3 separate regions of the Homo sapiens genome follow, and all the other regions are linked to region 1. Evidence: fine-mapped expression QTL. A gene starts in region 1. Each other region holds a variant in brackets. All regions are shown on one strand. Distances are between the middles of the regions.

What was found. PIP is the estimated chance that this variant, and not a neighbour inherited with it, causes the effect.
Region 2: its variant is the best candidate, but not a certain one, in a credible set for the expression of CCR2 in whole blood (INTERVAL, PIP 0.81).
Region 3: its variant is the best candidate, but not a certain one, in a credible set for the expression of CCR2 in whole blood (INTERVAL, PIP 0.52).

Annotation. Positions count from the first base shown.
Region 1 is chr3:46,350,402-46,356,854 of GRCh38, reverse strand. It overlaps CCR2 (C-C motif chemokine receptor 2), which reads right to left and starts at 2,744. Exons shown (of 2, transcript NM_001123396.4): 1 at 2,678-2,744.
Region 2 is chr3:46,312,507-46,318,959 of GRCh38, reverse strand. No RefSeq gene overlaps it. Among named protein-coding and RNA genes, the nearest start is that of CCR2, 38 kb to the left of the region's middle. The variant C/T (reference allele first, on the strand shown) is at 2,867.
Region 3 is chr3:46,415,311-46,421,763 of GRCh38, reverse strand. It overlaps LINC02009 (long intergenic non-protein coding RNA 2009), which reads left to right. Exons shown (of 5, transcript NR_151704.1): 3 at 272-391; 4 at 2,101-2,247; 5 at 2,718-5,248. Among named protein-coding and RNA genes, the nearest start is that of LINC02009, 5.1 kb to the left of the region's middle. The variant G/A (reference allele first, on the strand shown) is at 3,506.

The sequences.
Region 1 (6,453 bases):
CCTCCACCTCCTGGGTTCAAGTGATTCTCCTGCCTCAGCCTCCTGAGTAGATGGGACTATAGGCGTGCACCACCATGCCCCGCTAATTTTTGTATTTTTAGTAGAGATGGGGATTCACCATGTTGGCCAGGATGGTCTCGGTCTCTTGACCTCCTGATGCACCCGCCTTGGCCTCTCAAATTGCTGGGAGAAAAACAAGCCCCTGTTTTAAAGCCATTATGAACTGCATTTTCTGTTCTCTGAAGTCAAAAACGTTCTAACTGATGATTCTCTCAGCTTTCTGCCTCCATCATCCTGCCAAAACTTCTCTTGTTAAGATTGCAGTGACAACCCAATTTTTCAAATGCCCTGGTTTTATTCCAATTCCACCCTCTTCAAGTATTTGATCCTTCTGCTAACTTCCTCCATTTACAATTCTTTTTGGCTTCCAGATGGGAGGGGCTGTGCTACCGCTTTTTATTCATGTTCTTTGCTGGCATCTCCTCCCCGTGCCCACACCTTAAGATTCCCCAGGCACCACACTTAGCTCTCACCTCTTTAATTTTTTGCCTCTTTATCCTTGCTACAAAGTTCTTCCTGAATTGTATTGTCTAAACTCATGGTTCCTACTCCCTTCTATGCTACTGTTTTCTAAAGCTCTGTCTTCAAGCTCCAGCTTTCCCCTAAGCCTTAGAGTTGAATTTCCCATTGCCTGATGCATATCTCCCCATGCATGTATTCACTGCATCAACACTTATTGAACACCTACTATGAACCATACTCAGTTTTAGGCACTGAAGTGAGCAAAGTGGGTATCATGCAGGGACCTCAAATTCAACCCACCCCAAATGGGGCACTGCTGAAAACTCCTTCCGATTGTGGATTCCTCCATTGCCTAAGAAGCAAAATTGGGCATTGCCCTGGGTTGCTTCTCCTTCTGAAAATTAGGAGCCAGTTTTTGGAGCCAAACAAACCTGGATTTGAATCCTTATAGGCAGTGTAATCTGGGGCCAATTACTCCTTCAAGTGCCGATTTCTTTATGCATAAAATATTAACTATGCTGAGTTGCTGTGAAGATCAATGGAGTAAGGACTTAGGACAGCATCTGACACAGAGAAATGCCCTGTATTATTATCATGTCATTTGAGTTCCACCTCATAGATGCCTCTCAGATTCATCCCCTCTGCACTGCTTTCAACTGTCACTTTCTTGCTTCACACACTCCTCACTCCTGGCTTTGTTGTAGTCTTTCCTTTGCTCATGGCTCATCTCAAGCCATGTTCCCTCTCAACCTATCTTCTCTTAAGTTGAAATTGAATAGTCACTCTTAGCTTAAAACCTCCAGTAGCCCTATGACTTATATGTGGTGGGCTTCAAAGATAATGTCCAGACTGCCCAGCACAACATCTTTTCTGAGTTTGCCTCTTTTCAGCCTCACCTCCAGTCCCTTCTCCAATCCCAAATCCTGTGCTTCAGTCACAGCCATCTTCTCTTCATTTTCCCTAAACTCACCATTTCCTTCATGCTTCAGTGGTTTTGCAGGTCCTTGCCCCTCTGCCCAAAATGATTGGTGAGCTTCTATTCACCCTTCAATACCTCCTGCTCAAATCCCCCTTCTCTGTGAAGCCTAATCTGTATCCTCTGTCATATTACTCTTATCACATAACACTGCATGCATCTAGATAAGCACTTATTATGTTATCTGCTACACACAGCATGTTCCTCAAGATCAAGGACTGGATTATGCTTCTATTTTCAGCTCTTATGATAGTACCTGGCTAAAGGAGGCACCAATAAATGTTCACTGAATGAGTACATAAAACTCTTTATAATAAGAACTATAAGCCCTAACATCATCAGGACTTGATTCTCAAGAATTTTTTTTCTGGCAGTGACTGTGAATTTCTTTTCCACCCACCTGTATACTTTATCCTTCCATTTCTCTTGCAATTGACACTTTTCACAAGTCTTGTATTTCATATCACTGAGCCAGATTCTTGAAATCTGGAGAAGCTAAATAAGACCTCTGATCAAAGTTGGAAAAAAATGCATCTGCCTAAAGAATCACAACTGTGGTCATTAATTGAGTGCTCCTGAAGCTCAGATGCTATGTTAAATGCTGTGCACACATTACTTAATTTCATTTTTACAACTGGCTAGCATGTAGCTTCTACTACAGTGAACAATGAGCAAGATGCCTGAAATGTGCTGTCCTAGGTGTCATTTCAAGTGTCAGAACATGTCACCCAGAACTGATAGAAATCTATCTTTCAGAAAATAAATTCCTTACTTCTGCCTCTGTGGATCTCCTGAGTTGAGGCAAGGGACACATTTTGGTTCAGAGCTTGGATGGTCCTATATTTAGACTAACAGTTCCAGCTCTTTAACGTCCTTGGGTGCTCAGAGGGGCAGAGTGAGCCCCTGGGTGTGTGGACTGGTGACTGAGCAGAGTGGCTGTCCTGGCCTCGCTTGCTGCCCACTCTCCCCCATCACCTGCTGCACGCTGCTCTTCCTCAGGGTTTCTCTAACATCTCCTGGTGCACATGCCATCCCCACCCCTGCCTCTCATCTTGATCATTCCCCCCAAGTGTGCAGGCTTTGCAGTTCCCCAGGGTGTACCCAGACCCGGCATTTCCAGCTTTGAGGTGCGTTGAGCCTATGAATCAGAAAGTAATGGAAAAAATGCCTACAACTCACCAGCTTGTGGCTTGTCTCAGGCAGTCCTGGTATGTCAGGCTTCTCAGCAACTGAACCAAACAGATCTAGAGGTAGAAACTTGGCATGCAGAAGTAGGAAATAAAGTTTCCTGCAGAAAGTGAAGGCGGAGATACAGGGCAACTAATGGTAAAGATTTGAAAAAAAAAATCAGAAAAATATAGTTCTTCTTTTCCAGTCAGGAACATTGTACATTGGGTTGAGGTCTCCAGAATAGGATTAATTTTGAAATCTTGCTTATGCAACCTTGAGTGTGAGTCAGGCAAACCCTGTACATCTGCTCCTGTTTCTAACGACTCTGAGCTTCTTTATCTTGTGGGTCTTTATACCTGGAACATTTCCACTCTCTGCTCTCCTACTAGTGATAATTTGCATGATATGAGCACAACAGAATGTTTCATGTTCCAGAGAATAAAGGGTATTGGTGATAGTGGAGGAAGTATAATGAGGTTTTACTGCGATCATGTGTGCTGGTTTCAGTGGTATCATGGATTCAGAATCTGGTTAGAAATTTCATTTAGATAAGACTTTAAAATTTTTTTTTATTTAATTCACATAATAATTGTATATATTTATGGGACACAATGTGATGTTTTGCTACATGTATACATTGTGCAATGATCAAATCAGGGTAATTACATATCCATCCTCTGAAACATTTATCATTTCTTTTGAAATAATAATGATATTGAAAACCCTCTCTTCTAGCTATTTATATATACAGAATTCATTATTAACTACCGTCACCCTACTTGGAGCAGAGCACCAGCACTTGTTTCTCCTATCTCATGGTAACTTTGTACCCGTTGATCAACTGCTGCCCATTCTCACCTCCTCTCTTTCCTCCCCAGTCTCTGGTAACCACTGCTCTACTGTCTTTTTCTAAGATAGCAACTTTTTTTTTTTTTTTAAATTGGGTTTCATTCTGTCACCCAGACCGGAGTGCACTGGCACAGTCTCAGCTCACTGCTACCTCCACCTTCTGAGTTCAAGCCATCCTCCCACCTCAGCCTCCTGAGTAGCTAGGATTACAGGTGTGTGCCATCATGCCCGGCTAAGCAACTTATTTAAAAAAAAATTCCACATAAGAGTGAGATCACGTGGTATTTGTCTATCTGTGTGTGGCTTATTTCACTTAACATCCTCTAGGTTCATCCACATTATCACAAATTACAGGATTTCAAACTTTTTAATGAAAAGGAAATGCTAAATTATCTCTTGTGTCAGGAACGTCCTTAGCAAGAAGAACCTCAGTTATTTTAAATGCCCCTCCTTGGAAAGACGTTTTGTTAAAAGATAATGTAAATTTTGCAATGGGGACATCAGACTAGGAGCATTCCTAAGATTGTGCAGAGAACATGGTGTCATCTAAGTTGGCCCCTGGCACTTTCTGGAATCCAGCAGACACCGGAGGCAGGATCTCATGCTGTGGACTTGGCAAGTTTCTAAGTTTCCATTTCCCAAATATGAAATATGAATAACAAGACTGGGGGTCTATGAGGGTAAATGGACCTAAAGCAGCTAGAGCAGGGTCTGGCAGGCACTCCACAGGTAACAAACAGAACAGAACAGTCTGAGCCCTGCAGAGTGCCAGAGGTTGAAGGATGCATCCACTGCTAGAGCCAACAACAATCAAATGCTCAGGGCAGTCCAGGTGTCCTTTCCAGATTTCAAGAAGTTGGCTTTTTTGCTGTTGTTGTTGTTGTTGTTGTTGTTGTGTTATGTTGTGTTTTTGCTTTCTTTTGCGACAAGATCTTGCTCTGTTGCCTAGGCTGGAGTGCGGTGGCATGATCATGCTTCACTGCAGTCTCAACCTCAAGCAATCCTCTCATCTCAGCCTCCCAAGTAGCTGAGACTACAGGTGCATGCCACCATGCCTGACTATTTTTTGTAGAGATGGGGTTTTGTCATGTTGCCCGGGCTGGTCTCGAACTCCTGGGCTCAGGCAATCTGCCTGCCTCAGCCTCCTGAAGGGCTGGGATTACAGGTGTGAGCTCCTACACCCAGCCCAGATTTCAGTCAGTTGTAACCATGTGTCCTGTGTAAGACCTGGTATATGTGCTAAGTAAGACCTGAGACTTGAAGGGTCTCAGGTTTTTTCTTGGAAGACAGCTCATTGCCTGTTCAGGAACATAGCAAGTTCCCCAGTTGTCTCTCAATGTGTCTCTGGGCCGGAATTGGAGCATATCTCTGAGATTTCAATAATAAGACAGGTCATCCCTGACCTGGTAACACTGAGCTTGCTGCCACTTCTGGAATCTCCTGACCCTGGCATCTTGCCACCTGTTCCTATGATTCAACCCAGGATGGGGAAGAGCAAGAGCCAGAAATTTTGCTCTGGCTGATTAGGACCGCTCTCCAATTTTGTCTTCACATTGTGATCTTTGTCTCCAGCCCTGTAATTTCATAAACAAGGAGAGGCACAGAGGTAGATAGTTGCAGAGCCAGGATTCAAACCTTTGGCTTATACTGACACAGAGGGCAGGATAACAGAGGGCACCCTCCGCTGAGATTTTGAAGAGACAGTATAGAATGAAAATATTTTTGGAGGGGTGAGCAGGCTTAAAAGAAGCAACAGGGATGGTGAGGTGGTCTGTCATCCCTATGCTTTGTGGGAGACCAGAATTTGACACCCTAAAATGTACCTCTTTTGCATAAGGATTGTTGAGCTGAAGGCAATTAAGAAGCAGATGAAGGAAAGCTCTTTTCCCTCCCTTTATTTGTCTAAAAGCAGGATATAGACTTACAAAGACAAAACGGATCTGCACCCCCCTCCACACCTTCTGCCAGGGTGAACAAAGGTTCACCACTGAAGACAAATTTAAATCCTTGTGGACCTGGAGATGGCACCAGAGGAATCTTCATTAACAAGTATTACTAACCAGCCTTTACCTCCATTTATTCCTTTTGCCTTCCTACAAGTCACTGTCCCTAGAGGCTCAAAGTTCATTTTCTTTGTCTTGTCATATCTCTAAAATGTTACTGAACTTTGTTGAAGATGCTATATGAGCTGGAATTCAAAGTCACCTTTTTAAGAATTATTCATTCCCTGGATAGCTCCTATGTACGTATAAAATATGTACGTTAATAAACTTTTCTCGTGTTAATCTGTCTTTTGTTACAGGGGTCCATTCCAAGAACTTATGAGCATTGAGGAAAAAATTATTTTTTTCTTCCTTAACAGCTAGAAGGATCAAAAGAATAAACAATACCACTTGAGTGCTACAGACAGCTGGAATTGAGAGCTGCAGGTTGATGGCTCAGCCACTGCTAGAAGTTCAGCAAAGCAGTAGGACAGCAGGGGCAGAAAGTATCCTAACCTCCTTCTCCCACTCTGACCTCCTACCAGTGCTTCCCAGTGACTGAACCAGATGGGAAGAGGGAATAATGGACAGTCTAGGCAATGTAGCCCCTAAAATCAGCATCCTGGGACTCAGAGTGGATCTGGGGGAGTGTGGCAAATAACCACACAACCGTCAAGTCAAACAAATTTTTTTCTTGCAACTTTCTTCTTACCTCGTCCATATATTAATAGATAGTTAGAAAATTGGGAATCTTGATCAGTACATCTTAGAATTCTTTATGCACACGGAGAGAGTTAAAAAGGATGTTTTTTCATGAGTTTGAGAATTCTGTATCTACCCATTGGCACTGGGTTCATGGTTTCTAAGGTTCCCAGTCTCAATGATGAGTATGGCCCTTCGAGCAGGCTTGAAGGAAAGTATGTCACAAGCCACTGAGCTCTGATGTGCCTGCTG
Region 2 (6,453 bases), 38 kb after region 1:
CAGAATAAATAAACAAATAAATAAGAAACAGAAAATAAAAAATGTTGGTAAGAATGTGGAGAAATTGGAACCTTTGTGCATTGCTGATGGAAATGTAAAATGATGTACACTGTGGAAAACAATGTAGCAGTTCCAAAAAAATTAAACATAAAATTACCATATGATCCATATAAACAATGAATTGAAAGCAGTACTCAACCAGATGTCTGTACACTCAGGTTCATAGCAGCATTTTTCACAATAGTCAAAAGATGGGAGGAACTCAACAGTCTGTTGATGGACAAATGAATAAAGATGTTATTTACAGATACAACAGAATATTATTCAGCCTTAAAAACAAAGAAAATTCTGACACATGCTAAAATGTGGTTGAGCCTTAGGAGGTTGTGCTAAGTCAACTAAACCAGTCATAATAGGGCAAATGCTGTGATTCCACTTATATAAGTTACCTAGAGTAGTCAAATTCATAGCGACAGAAAGTAGAATGGTGATTGCCAGGGCCTAGAAGGAGGGGGGGAGAGGAATAGTTAGTGACTAATGACAACAGAGGTTCAGTTTTGCAAGATGAAGAGTTCTGGAAGTAGACGGTAGTGATGGTTGCACAACAATGTGAATGTAGTTAATGCTACAGAATTGTACATTTAAAGTGGCTAAAATGGTGAATTTTATGTCATATATATTGTACTACGATTTAAAAAATCAGACCAAATTTGACCATGTTGTAAGTGGGTAGAGCTGGAAGGGATCTTTCTGGTTATGTGGTGCAACCCACCCATATTACAGCTGAAGAGACTGAATGAGGTCCTGAGACTGGCATGACTTGAGCAAGATGATGTAGCCACTAGCGACAGAGCCAAACCAGTCTTCTAATACACTACACTAAACTCTCATGTGGTTTCTTCAACTAGCCTTCTTGCATCTGACTCCATCACACCTCCTTGGTAAAAATACAAATGCCTAGACCCTATCTTATTTCAGAGAACCTGGGCATCCAGATGATTCTGATCAACACCAGCGTTCAAGAACCATTGCACTAATGGGTAACTTCAGATGCTTTAGGGGATGAGCTCTAGGCTGTAGGAACACGGCCAAGCAACTCATCCACTGGTCAGAAGCAAGGAGGTTCATTTTCATCCATTCCTTCAGTCATTCAACAAACATTGAGTGTTTACTATGTGCTAGGTGTGATTTTGAATACTGGTGGCATGAGTTTACAGAGATAAATCAGTCATAGGTTCTTCCCTCAAGAATTTCACAGTTTAATGGTGAAGAAAGATACTAAATTGATAATTGGAATAACGTGATCAGTACCTGAAGCTCACACTTTCAAAGAAATAAGACATCCACATTTATAATCCACCAAATCTTCAGGGAACAGCTATTCTGGGTCAGGTGGTAAGGTTACAGAAATGAATAGGACAGAGTCCCTGTCCCCTGGAAACTTCGAGGCTAGTGAATGAAAAGGAAATGTGAACAGGTTGGCTAATTATGGTTCCTTGGAGTCCTGGATGATAACTAAGAGAAGATAGGACTTTTCTGATTCATGGATGCTTGGAATTGATGCCTGGTGAATCACCATGGAAACAGGATTGATTCTCATTCATGAAGATAGTTCTAACAAATATTTTTAAGCACCTAATTAATATTTTTTCCAGCTCTGTCCCAGTTATGCTCTGTCCATGGTCATAATCCACATCCCACAGAAAATCAGATAGTCTGTTTTCACGTTGCTGATAAAGACATATTTGAGACTGAGCAATTTACAAAAGGAAGAGGTTTAATGAACTTAAAAGTTCCACATGGTTGGGGAGGCCTCACAATCATGGCGGAAGGTGAAAGGCATGTCTCACATGGTGGCAGACAAGAGAAGAGAGCTTGTGCAGGGAAGCTCCCCTTTATAAAACCATCAGATCTTGTGAGACTTATTCAGTATCGTGAAAACAGCATGGGAAAGACCTGCCCCCATGATTCAATTACCTCCCACTGGGTGCCTCCCACAACACATGGGAGTTCAAGATGAGATTTGGATGGGGACACAGCCAAACCATATCACCAGAGGAGGGGAGAGTTTTGATGTTTAATGATTTTAACAGGGTTCCATGTTCTTTTGACATTCCATGGCCTATAACACTACTGGTGTTGTCCCCAACCACTCCAGCTCCAATGTCATAATATTTCAAATCCATATGGGTCCTAAGTCCTGAATTACAAAGGCTTTATGCTCCACAGGAGGGAAATGTGCATCTTGCCTTTCCTAGAAGCCTGCAGCTCACTTCAAGTGGAAAGGAGTCATTCCTCTGACTTCTGTCTGCTTTAATGGTAAGGCCCAGAACTACATGGCCAAAATCTGGGTTGTGACAAAAGTTAGGTAGGACTCTGGGGTCTTCAGCTGTAAGTGCTGTTGTGATGAGCTTAGTAGTAAGGTCATCCACCTGAAGTAGCATGTGTTTCAATCTCAGCCTTTGATTTGTTTCAGCAAACATAACCAAATGAAAAGAGGAAGGTATTATTTCTAACTTCAGGAATGAGGAACCAGTGTATAACACACATTCAATAAAGCATTACCACCAAGCATTAGACATTTGTCATTTTTTATTTTTAAAAACAATGAAATCATTGTATTTGTGAGCACTAAGGATACTATTTCACACACTTTTCTTTTTACATCTGTAATTTTCCCTTGGCCCTATTCTGTACCAAATCCACAAGAATTTCCTCCTTCTTCTCCTATATAAAAATCCATTTTTTCTCTTGCATTTGCTCTAAAGTAATTCATGAAATTATCCAATGTGGTATCGGTTGTGGTGATGAGCTGGTAAGTGCTGAAGACTGAGGGAGGTGCTGTGAGGACTGACATATTGAGGCT[C/T]CCTGTCCTTAAGAAGGATGCTCTCTGGGGAAGGAGGTGAATTTAACAGACCTGGAGGGGCAACCAACAATCCTACATTACCTTATCTGTAGAACAATGAAGCTCTGATTTATGCATAAGACTGCATTGTACTTCATTTATGTTCATGAAGGATACTGATCTGTTGTTTTCCTACACTGTCTCTGTATGATTTTGGTATCAGGGTAATGCTAGTTTCATAGAATGAGTTGGAGAGTATCTCCTCCGCATCAATTTTATGAAAGACATTGTGGAGAATTATTACTGTTTCCTGTTTGATTGTCCAGTAGAATTTACCATTGAAGCCATCTGGGTCTAGAGTTTGCTTTGTGGGAAGACTTTTAACTATAATTTCAATTTTTTTTTTTTTTTTTTTTTTTGAGACGGAGTCTTGTTCTGTTGCCCAGGCTGAAGTGCAGTGGCGCGATCTCGGCTCACCACAACTTTGCCTCCCAGGTTCAAGCAATTCTCCTGCCTCAGTCTCCTGAGTAGATGGGATTACAGGCACGCACCACCAAGCCTGGCTAATTTTTGTACTTTTAGTAGAGACAGGGTTTCACCATGTTAGTCAGGCTGGTCTCAAACTCCTGACCTCGTGATCCGCCTTCCTAGCCCTCCCAAAGTGCTGGGATTAAAGGCTTGAGCCACTGCGCCTGGCCTCAATTTTGTAATAGCTATAAGACTATTCAATTTGTGAGTATTTTAGGTGAGCTTTGGTTGTTTGTGTCTTTCAAGAAATTTGTTTTATCTAAGTTGCCTAATTTATAGTCATAAAATTATTCAAAGTATGCCCTTATACTTTTTATATCTGTAGGATCTGTAGTGATATTGCCTCTCTCATTCTTAATACTGGTAATTTGTGTCTTCTCTCTTTTTTACTTGATCAATCTGGCTAGAGTTTTATCAATTTTATAGATCTGCTTAAAGAATCAGCTGTTTGGTTTGATTTTTTTCTTTTGTTTTCTATTCATTGATTTCTGCTCTTATCTTTATAATTTCCTTTCTTCTGTTTACTTTGGCTTTAGCTTATCCTGCTTTTTCTATTTTCTTAAAGTAAAAGCTGAGGTCATTGATTTGAAACCTTTTTCATTTTTTAAGATAGGAATTTGGTGCTATCAATTTTCCTATAAGCATTTCTTTAGTCTTATCCCACAAATAGATTTCAATTTGGAGTGAAGTAAAAGCAAAACAAATGCAGAAATATATTATCTTGGAAAATCCTTAGGACAAAAATGGGAGATAGATCATCTGCCATTAAGTACAACACAGTCATTCAGGACCTTTGAAGTTGGTTATGTGGTTGGGTTGCTAGTAGGGACTAGGGTACAGTCAAACCTCTGGTCACAAAGCTGAATGGTAACTGTGGTTTCTGAGAAAGGGCACCTTTTCATAATTTGCCTGAAAGGATCCTACAGCTGCTCTGTCAATGTTTGTTTTCATTATTGGAAAAGATCACTTCTGTTTTGTTTTTTGTTCAGCTTAAGAAGTGATTGGCTCACTTTGAGGAACCTTATAAGAAAAAAAACAGATATCTTTATGTTGAAGTTTTCTTATCAGATGAGGCTGGATAATAATCTGTGGCCTGTCAAATGTTGTAAATATTTTCTTGTAATCTACCTTGCTTAACAAGTTGCCTATATATTTTTTTCTAGGAAAGGTGAAAAAAAAACAAAGAAAGATTGCTTATATTTTTAACTTATTTTTATCATATTTGTCTTCATTTATTCATTTATTACTTCTGTGTTTTGCTTAGTAAGACCTTTTCTATTTCAAAGGAATAAAAATATTCTTCTTTTTTTTCTAGTAGTTTTAGAATTTTATTTTTTACATTTAAATATTTCATCTGTCTGGAATCTATTTTTTGCATATGATACAAAGTAGGAGTTTCACTTTATTTCTCACCAATGTATAACCAATTTTACCCAACACCATTTATTGAATAACCCATCTTTTCCCAACTGATTTGAAGGACCATCTTCATTATACGCAAAGCACCTATAAATATATGAGTTTCCTGTGACTATCTGTCTTATTTTGTTCACTTGCTTGCTCATTTCTGCCCTCATGTTAATTACTATTGCTTTATAATACATTGTGGTATCTGGAAGGATGAGATTTTATTCTCTTTCTTTTTCAAATATTGTTTGGTCCCTCACATTTTATTTTCCACGTAAACTTGGAATCACTTTGTCTAGTTTTTTAAAATCCTGTTGAATTGCATTGAGTTTATAATTTAACCTGAGGAGAATGAATATCTTTACGATAGCAGTCTTTCTATCCAGGAACATGGTAGGATGCTACATTTATTCAAGTCCTTTTTTATGTGATTCTGTTATTTAACTAATTAGATTTCATTCCCAACTTTGTGCTAATTGCCATTTCAATAAGGCACATCTTTAGCATCCTTATTCAAGTAACTTATAAATCATTGACTGGAAAATAGTTTGATATAATGCATTACAGCTTACTACTAAAGACTGTCTTTGAGAGTAAAATTAACTCATTAGTCAACTATCCTTGGATACTGCTGTTAAACTAGTCTTCATTTCTAATTTAGCCTAGCCATCCCACAGGATTCAATCCAATCCTATCCAGCCCAATTCAATCCAATTAAATGGACCTCTCATTACTTGAGTTCCACATGCTAAGGTATGTATAGGCAGCAGAGAGTCTGCCAAATATCTTGTTGTCAATCAGCTTCATCAGGCATTCCTGGAATTATCTATCAAGTAATTTTGTTGACAAAGGGAAATGTGGTTGGTGTGGCATGAACTGTTTTTAGTGGATATGTGCTGTCCTATAATGTAAGAATTGGTTGCTCTGCTGGAGGAGTATGGTGGCACTAGGCCAAGGGATTAAGCAACAACAAAACTAGGGATGGGCAAGTGTAGTAAAACTGGGAAGTTGTTGCCTAAGCATGCATGAGAAGAAGTTAACCAGAAGCTCATTGGCATTGTAGACAGACAGCAGGGAGATTCAGTCAGTGACTGGGGGTGGAAATGAACAAGCAATATTCAAGAAGTTCACAAACTTTGGACATTGAGTTTAGTAGAATGTGTAAGTGTTTGTTTCGTAAGTCTCTTACGGTCTAGCCAGAGGAAAAGGACATAAAAAATAAACAGGAACTTCCAGGAAGATAGAGTAGAAGTATTTTTCCATATTTCTCCTATTAAATATGACTAAATCCCTGATCTAAAACAAATAAGAAAACTCCAAAAGGTGGAGCAGATTAGCTAGAGACGTTGGGACCCAAGAAACCATACGGTAGTAACATCACTGGATTTTCTCTGTGTCTCACACATCCCAGACTGTGCTGGAGAAGCTAGGAACCTGGAAATACAACAGGTAAACACAAAAAAATACTTCCAACAAAAGTCTGCTCTTTCTAACCAAAGGGCTAGAAAGACAGAAAACTTTTGGACCTCAAATACTCCACTCTAGCCAAGCAGTACAGAGACAGCTATGGCCCCACACCCACCCATGCTGCTAAAGGCCCATTGGGAGCAAGACTTCCACCCTCGACAGGCTATATTGAGGCCTTCAAATCTCTCTTCACTCCTGTAGCAGGC
Region 3 (6,453 bases), 65 kb before region 1:
TGATGAACCACTCGACAATGGAATTAGGACAGTACCACTATGTGGTGGACTTGGCCAATGCATTCTTCTCAGTTGACCTTGCTCTAGAGAGCCAGGAACAGTTTGCCTTGATGACAATGGACTTTCACAGTGTTGCTGCAGGGCTATGTGCATAGCTCCACCATATGTCATGGTCTTGTTGCCATGGATTTAACAGCCTGAAAATGTCCAAAGGGAGTCCACTTGTTCCATTACGTTGATGATATTATGTTAACCTCTGATTCTCTTGCAGATTTAGAAGCAGTGGCACCCCTCTTGTGGCAACATTTGGCAGCATGCAGTTGGGCCATCAACAAATCCAAGGTCCGAGGGCCTGGATTACCTGCTAAATTCTTGGGAGTTATCTGGTCGGGTAAGATGAAGGCCATACAAGAGGCTATCATTGACAAAATTTAGGCATATCCCTGGCCCACCACGGTGAGGCAGCTGCAAACTTTTGTGAGCCTCCTGGGATATTGGTGGACATTCCTGCCTCATTTAGCTCAAATGATAAAACCATTGTATCAGTTAACAAAGAAGGGAGCAATCTGGGATTGGGCTGATGTGGCTGAGACTGGCTTCCTGGCAGCCAAGTGGGCTATTCAGCAGGCACGAGCCCTGTGGGTATTTGACAAGGGGTGCCCATTTGAACTGGATATGCATGTGACCACAGATGGTTTTAGTTTGGGCCTGTGGCAGCACACAGAGTGCCTGAGAATGCCAGGAGGCTTTTGGTCCCAACTATGGAAAGGAGCTGAGCTCTGGTATTCCTTGATAGAGAAATAGCTAGCAGCTGTATATGCTGCCCTTCAGGCTTGTGAGAAGTGATAGGATGGGCTACAGTCACAGTGTGGATGACTTACCTGACAGCGGGATGGGTGCATTCATGTGTAATGACCCCCCAGACTGGGATGGTGCAGACATCCACTTTGGCAAAGTGAGGCACTTACTTGGAGCAACAGAGTACGCTGAGCACAAGCCCATTAGCAGCAGAGTTGCAAGAGGTCTTGGGACCTGCAGTCCTAATGCAAGAGAAGGCCATGGGGCCTGAGGCACCCCTTGACCCTGAGCCACTGCCATTTAAGGAAGGGCGTCCCTCTATTCCTGATGGGGCATGGCACACAGATGGGTCTAGTCGAGGTGCTACTCCTGCTTGGACCAGTGTTGCAGTCCAACTTAGTACCAAAACCATATGGTTTGAAACCAGATGTGGACAAAGTAGTCAATGGGCTGAATTTAAAGCAGTATGGATGGTGATCAACAAGGCGGAGACACCTATGGTAATCCGTACCGATAGCTGGGCAGTCTATGGAGGCCTAACTTTGTGTTTAACTACTTGGAAAATACAGAATTGGCTAGTTGGCCACCAACCCATTTGGGGCCACCAACCCATGTAGCAAGACCTCTGGGAAATGGGTCATTGCAAAGATGTAACTATTTATCATTTGTCAGGCCATATGCCTCTGGCCACCCCCAGCAATGACGAGGCAGAAGCCTTGGCCAAGGTCCGATGGTTAGAGTTGGCATCTACATGAGATGTGGCCTTGTAGCTACACCGGAAACTGGGACATGCAGGGGGTAAACTGATGCAACAAGTCAATAAATGTTGGGGTCTGTCTCTGCCCATGCAAGACATTTGGGAGGCTTGTCAGAAATGCCCGGCATGTGCTCAGGCATACCCTAAATGGAGGCAGCTGTCCAGTGCTACACAAGTGACAACAGGGCAAGTGCCCTTGACCAGGTGGCAAGTAGACTACATTGGGCTGCTGCCGAAGTCACAAGGGTATACTCATGCGCTAACAGCTGTGGACACAGCCACAGGCCTGTTGTTTGCCTATCCTTGCAGGGTGGCCAACCAACAGCACACCATCCAGACCCTGCAACACTTATGTGCTCTATATGGTTGCCCTTTGGTCATTGAGAGTGATGGGGGACACATTTTACTGGACAACAGGCACAACAATGGACATAAAGTAGGGATTCCATGTACCGCACAACTTGCAAGCTGTGGGTATGATTGAGTGATATAGCGAGCTCTTGAAGAATGGGTTTTACTTGCATGTCACACTCCTGTCTTTGCAGGGCTGAAGTTCCAGGCTGGACCTGATGCTCCAAACCTTGAATGAATGGCCATGGAAAAGCAGCCCAGCCCAGGTGGAGGCTTTGTTACATGGGCCACCACCCCTATTCAGTTGCAGATACACACCAAGGGTAACCGCCTCTGACCAGGTATGGGGATGAACAGTAACCTGTTGTTGCCTGCCCCAACGTCCCTGAAGGCAGGGGAACAGAAAACCTGGCTGTGGCCATAGCCCCTCCAAGCCCCCGGCTGCTGGTGGTTGTCCATCGTAGCTCCCTGTGGGGAGGGCCTACAGTATGACTTGTATGTCACTCTTTGGGTGTTCAATGAATGGTCCCCGAAGTTAACTGTTTGTAGGAAAACGGCCAGGGAAGAAACTTTCCTCCAGGGTTCAAATGTACTGTCTGTGTGGCCTACTACAAGCTCCCCTGTGACTTTCGCATGAATACAGGACCCAAAGGAACCATGGGGAGCTGAAAAGGTGTGGTACTATTGCCCAGGGCAGAACCCCTTGGGGGCTGCATTGTTATCCAGGGATGAAAGGTTAGCCTGTATTTTACCTGAGGGATGTGATTTTCCTCTGTTAGTACCTATGCCTACTCTGTCATTCCAACTGTAGGTTAACATGCTCCAACTGCATTGTGGACTGGGCCCACACCTACACTGAAGTGACCAATGTTTCCAACTGTTGGATCTGCACCGCCCTTCTAGCAGCTGCAGATGGCTTGCCTTAGCACATACATTCAGCATCTGCAGAGAACCAGACATGGCTGGAGACTTGGGGTCCCATGGCTGATGCCTGGAACGCAACGTGGCAAGTTTTGGACAAAGGATGCCACAAGACCCACAGCACAGCCATTCCCTGGCTGGCCCATAGCATTTATGATGGGTGGGGCTGGCTAGTGAGGTAACGTGCAGTACCCCTGGCCCAGGCACTGTGGTGCATATAGCAACACTGGGGTAATAGCACTGTGGGATGGGTACCCGTCACAGTGTGTGTAAGCATAATACATGTCACCACACCAAAGGTATGGTGGAAGACGCGGCCCCACCAAGGGGCCTCGATGGACTGTGTGCCCCCTGGGAGTTTATGGGTCTGTGGGGACACAGGGTGGCCTTACCTATAAGCAAACTGGACTGGACATTATACCTGAGGGTGGCCTCATGTACCTGCCACTGTTCTCACATTGCCCAGATGCCTGCATAACTGGGAGGTGCTACACTCTCGGTTTTTGCAAGTGTAATGAGCACCCTGGTGGTTTTACCCCTTGACAGGCACTAGCCCTGGAGTGTGTGTCACAACTGTAGAAGCCAAGTTACTGCTCTTGCAGAGCATGCTGCTCAGGCTCTGAATTACACCTGAGTGGCCCTCTTCCCATTAATGGATGAGGTTGATCAGATCAGAAA[G/A]GTGGTGTTGCGAAACCGAATGGTCTTAGACATAGTAACTGCTGCCTAAGGAGGCACCTGTGCCCTTTTAGGAACACAATGTTGTACCTTTATCCCTGACAATTGGCAGAACATAACAGCAGCCCTGCAAGGGGTCTCACAGGAGATTAAGGTAGTCAAGAGCCTTACTGATGACCCCCTGCAGAGATGGTAGACATCCCTGGGCTCTGGCCTACGCTGGGCCCTGATAGTCATAAGTAGCATAGCTGGAATCCTAGTCGTGAGCTGTTGCTCTCCGTATTGTTGCTGTGGATTATGGATTCAGGGCTCCACCCTACGGGCACATGTCCCTACCTGGAGGATGCCCCTGGCCTAGGGGTGGAGTGTAAGGAAGATGGCTGCGCTTTAGTCAGGAGCAGGCTGAGGCCACTTTTTGGTGCACCATGACTCAGTGGGTTTGGAGCGTAGGCACACGACTCCGCACATTATGAACCATGCCACTTGAGGTGCATTAGGTGACCACTCACGTGAGCTCGTGATTGCTTCAGAGCCTCTATTGTCTGTAAAAGGTATAATTACCCTGCTGACACTGGACATATGGCTCGTGCCCAGAGAGAGGATAAGGCCATGTTCAAACTGCCTATGATTCCTCGGGTGTTTTTTCAGCTACCCCTCACCCACCCACCAACTCCCTTCGGACTTCAGTTTGGGCTAGAACCTTACACCCACATAAACTAAAGCTGTATGGGGTCCTCAGTTTTCAAGCACATAAAAGTATTCTGTATCCAAAAAGTTTGTGAACCACTGCCCTAGAGAAACTTTCCATGGCGTGCAAGATGTATGTAAGAATGCCCAGTAGAGACATAATAAGAAACCAGAAAAAGTGGAAATCTCAATGCCTGTCATCAAGAGAGATAAATGCAGCGTGGTCTATTTCTGTTCTCCTCACATTGCCCAGATGCCTGCTTAACTGGGAGGCGTTATGTTCTCAGTTTTTGCAAGTGTCATAAAGGAGTGAATGGAGCATTACCTGTCATTATAGACACTGCAAAATGAGCTAGTAGCAGGATTTTTACCACAGGTACCCATAAGCAACATGTGGCATGGTTCACCATGGTTTTACATTGTTGTGTAAATAACTTAAAATTATGTGAATAATGTAAAAGCATGGTGAACAATGCCATGTTTTGCTTATGGGTACCTGCGGTAAAAAGCAAAAATCATGACCCTGAAGGGGTGAGCAGGCCTACAGGTGCTGGGCAGGCACTGTCTTGCAAAGAGCACAAAATGTGCAGGTCCCTCTGGGAGTGTTATAGTGGGTAGCTAGTCAGAAAGAGCAGGGCAGGAGAGGGCTCCCCATACCCCACACACCAGGAGTGTCAGGTGACCATCAGGTGATGGTCTGGCGGTTGTTGACTGTCTTTCTAAAGTAATAATTGGTCACACCCGGCAACAGGGAAAAGCCGGCTCCTAATAGATAGAAAACACTCGAAACTGGTGAGCAGTAGTTTCCCTATAAGATCTCAGGAGTTGAGCCAGTGGGCTCAGGCAGGCACATGGGACAGCCCACCCCAAGGGAAGAACCAGGGGAGAAATAACGCAAGACCCCGAAAGCATGCTGACGTATAAAACCCCAAGTCAAAAGGTCAAACCACGCACTTGCTTTTTAAGTCGTCCACTTGGCCCTCTTCCAAGTGTACTTTCCTTCCTTTTGTTCCTATTCTAAAGCTTTTAAATAAACTTTTACTCCTGTGCTAAAACTTGCCTCAGTCTCTCCTTCTGTCTTATGTCCCTCAATTGAATTCTTTCTTCTGAGGAGGCAGGAATTGAGGTTGTTGCAGACCTGCGTGGATTTGCTGCCAGTAGCAGGAGCAGAGGACTAGGCCTTGGAGACGGTGAGGGGGCCACTCCCTCCCTATCCCCAGGCATCGGTAAGATCTGAGACAGACTGCTCTTCCCTTGGAGTGTATTGCTGACCTTGCCAACTGAAAATAAACAGCTTCTGATAGTCTTTACTAACAGATAATAGAAAAGAAAAATTGCCATCTGCACACCAGGTGCCAGGAGAAGGGTTGATTAGCTGCAGAAATGAAACAACACCTGATCCTGCAGCTGCAGCTGGAGCCCCCGCCTGATTAAGTTTACACTGGTCCACTGTCATTTTCCAACACCTATTTGTCTTCTGCACAAACCAGATAGGTGAGCTGAATGGAGAGAGGTGGACATCATCATCCTTCATCTTTCAAGTTCTTGCTACAATTCCTCCAGACGTGCAGTGTTGTTTTGTTTAGTATCTTGGCAGGTAGAGGGAGTTCCAAAGGCTTCCACTTGGCCTTCACTCTATGGATCAGAGAATCAATATGGGGATTCTTCCCCGATGCAGAGTATCTCTATTCCAATTATGCTTTCTGTTAAGAAGATTGTTTCTTTCTGTTTCTCCAGTTGATGGGGGCACTGGGCTTATAGTTCTCTGTGGGAGGAGTTCTAATTACAGATTGGATTTCTTTAGTAGATGTGAGATTATTCACATTTTATATTATTTTTCCATGTCAATTTTCTTTATTTTTCTTTGTCTTTTTAAAAGATGGGGTCTCACTATATTTCCCAGGCTGGTCTCAAACCGCTTGGCTCAAGTGATCCTCTCACCTTCGCCTCCCAGAGTGTTGGGACTACAAGCATGAGCCACTGCTCTCAGCTCAATTCTGCATTCTGGAACTGGGGGAATAACTATAGGATAAGTTCAGGGACCCTCTAGACTCACAGTGAAACAGACCTGAGCTCAAACTCTAGTGACCCCTGACCTCTATGAAGCCCTACTTTGGCTGGTAGACCACAAAGATATTTTGGGTCTCTTAGAACTGGTGTCAGCGTAGAGCCAGTGTCCTGGAATCTCCAAATAGCCTAATTATTTCCTTTTCCTCCATGGCTTTCCCTGGTAAATGGCCCTAAGTTGCTTTGGGGAAGGCTGG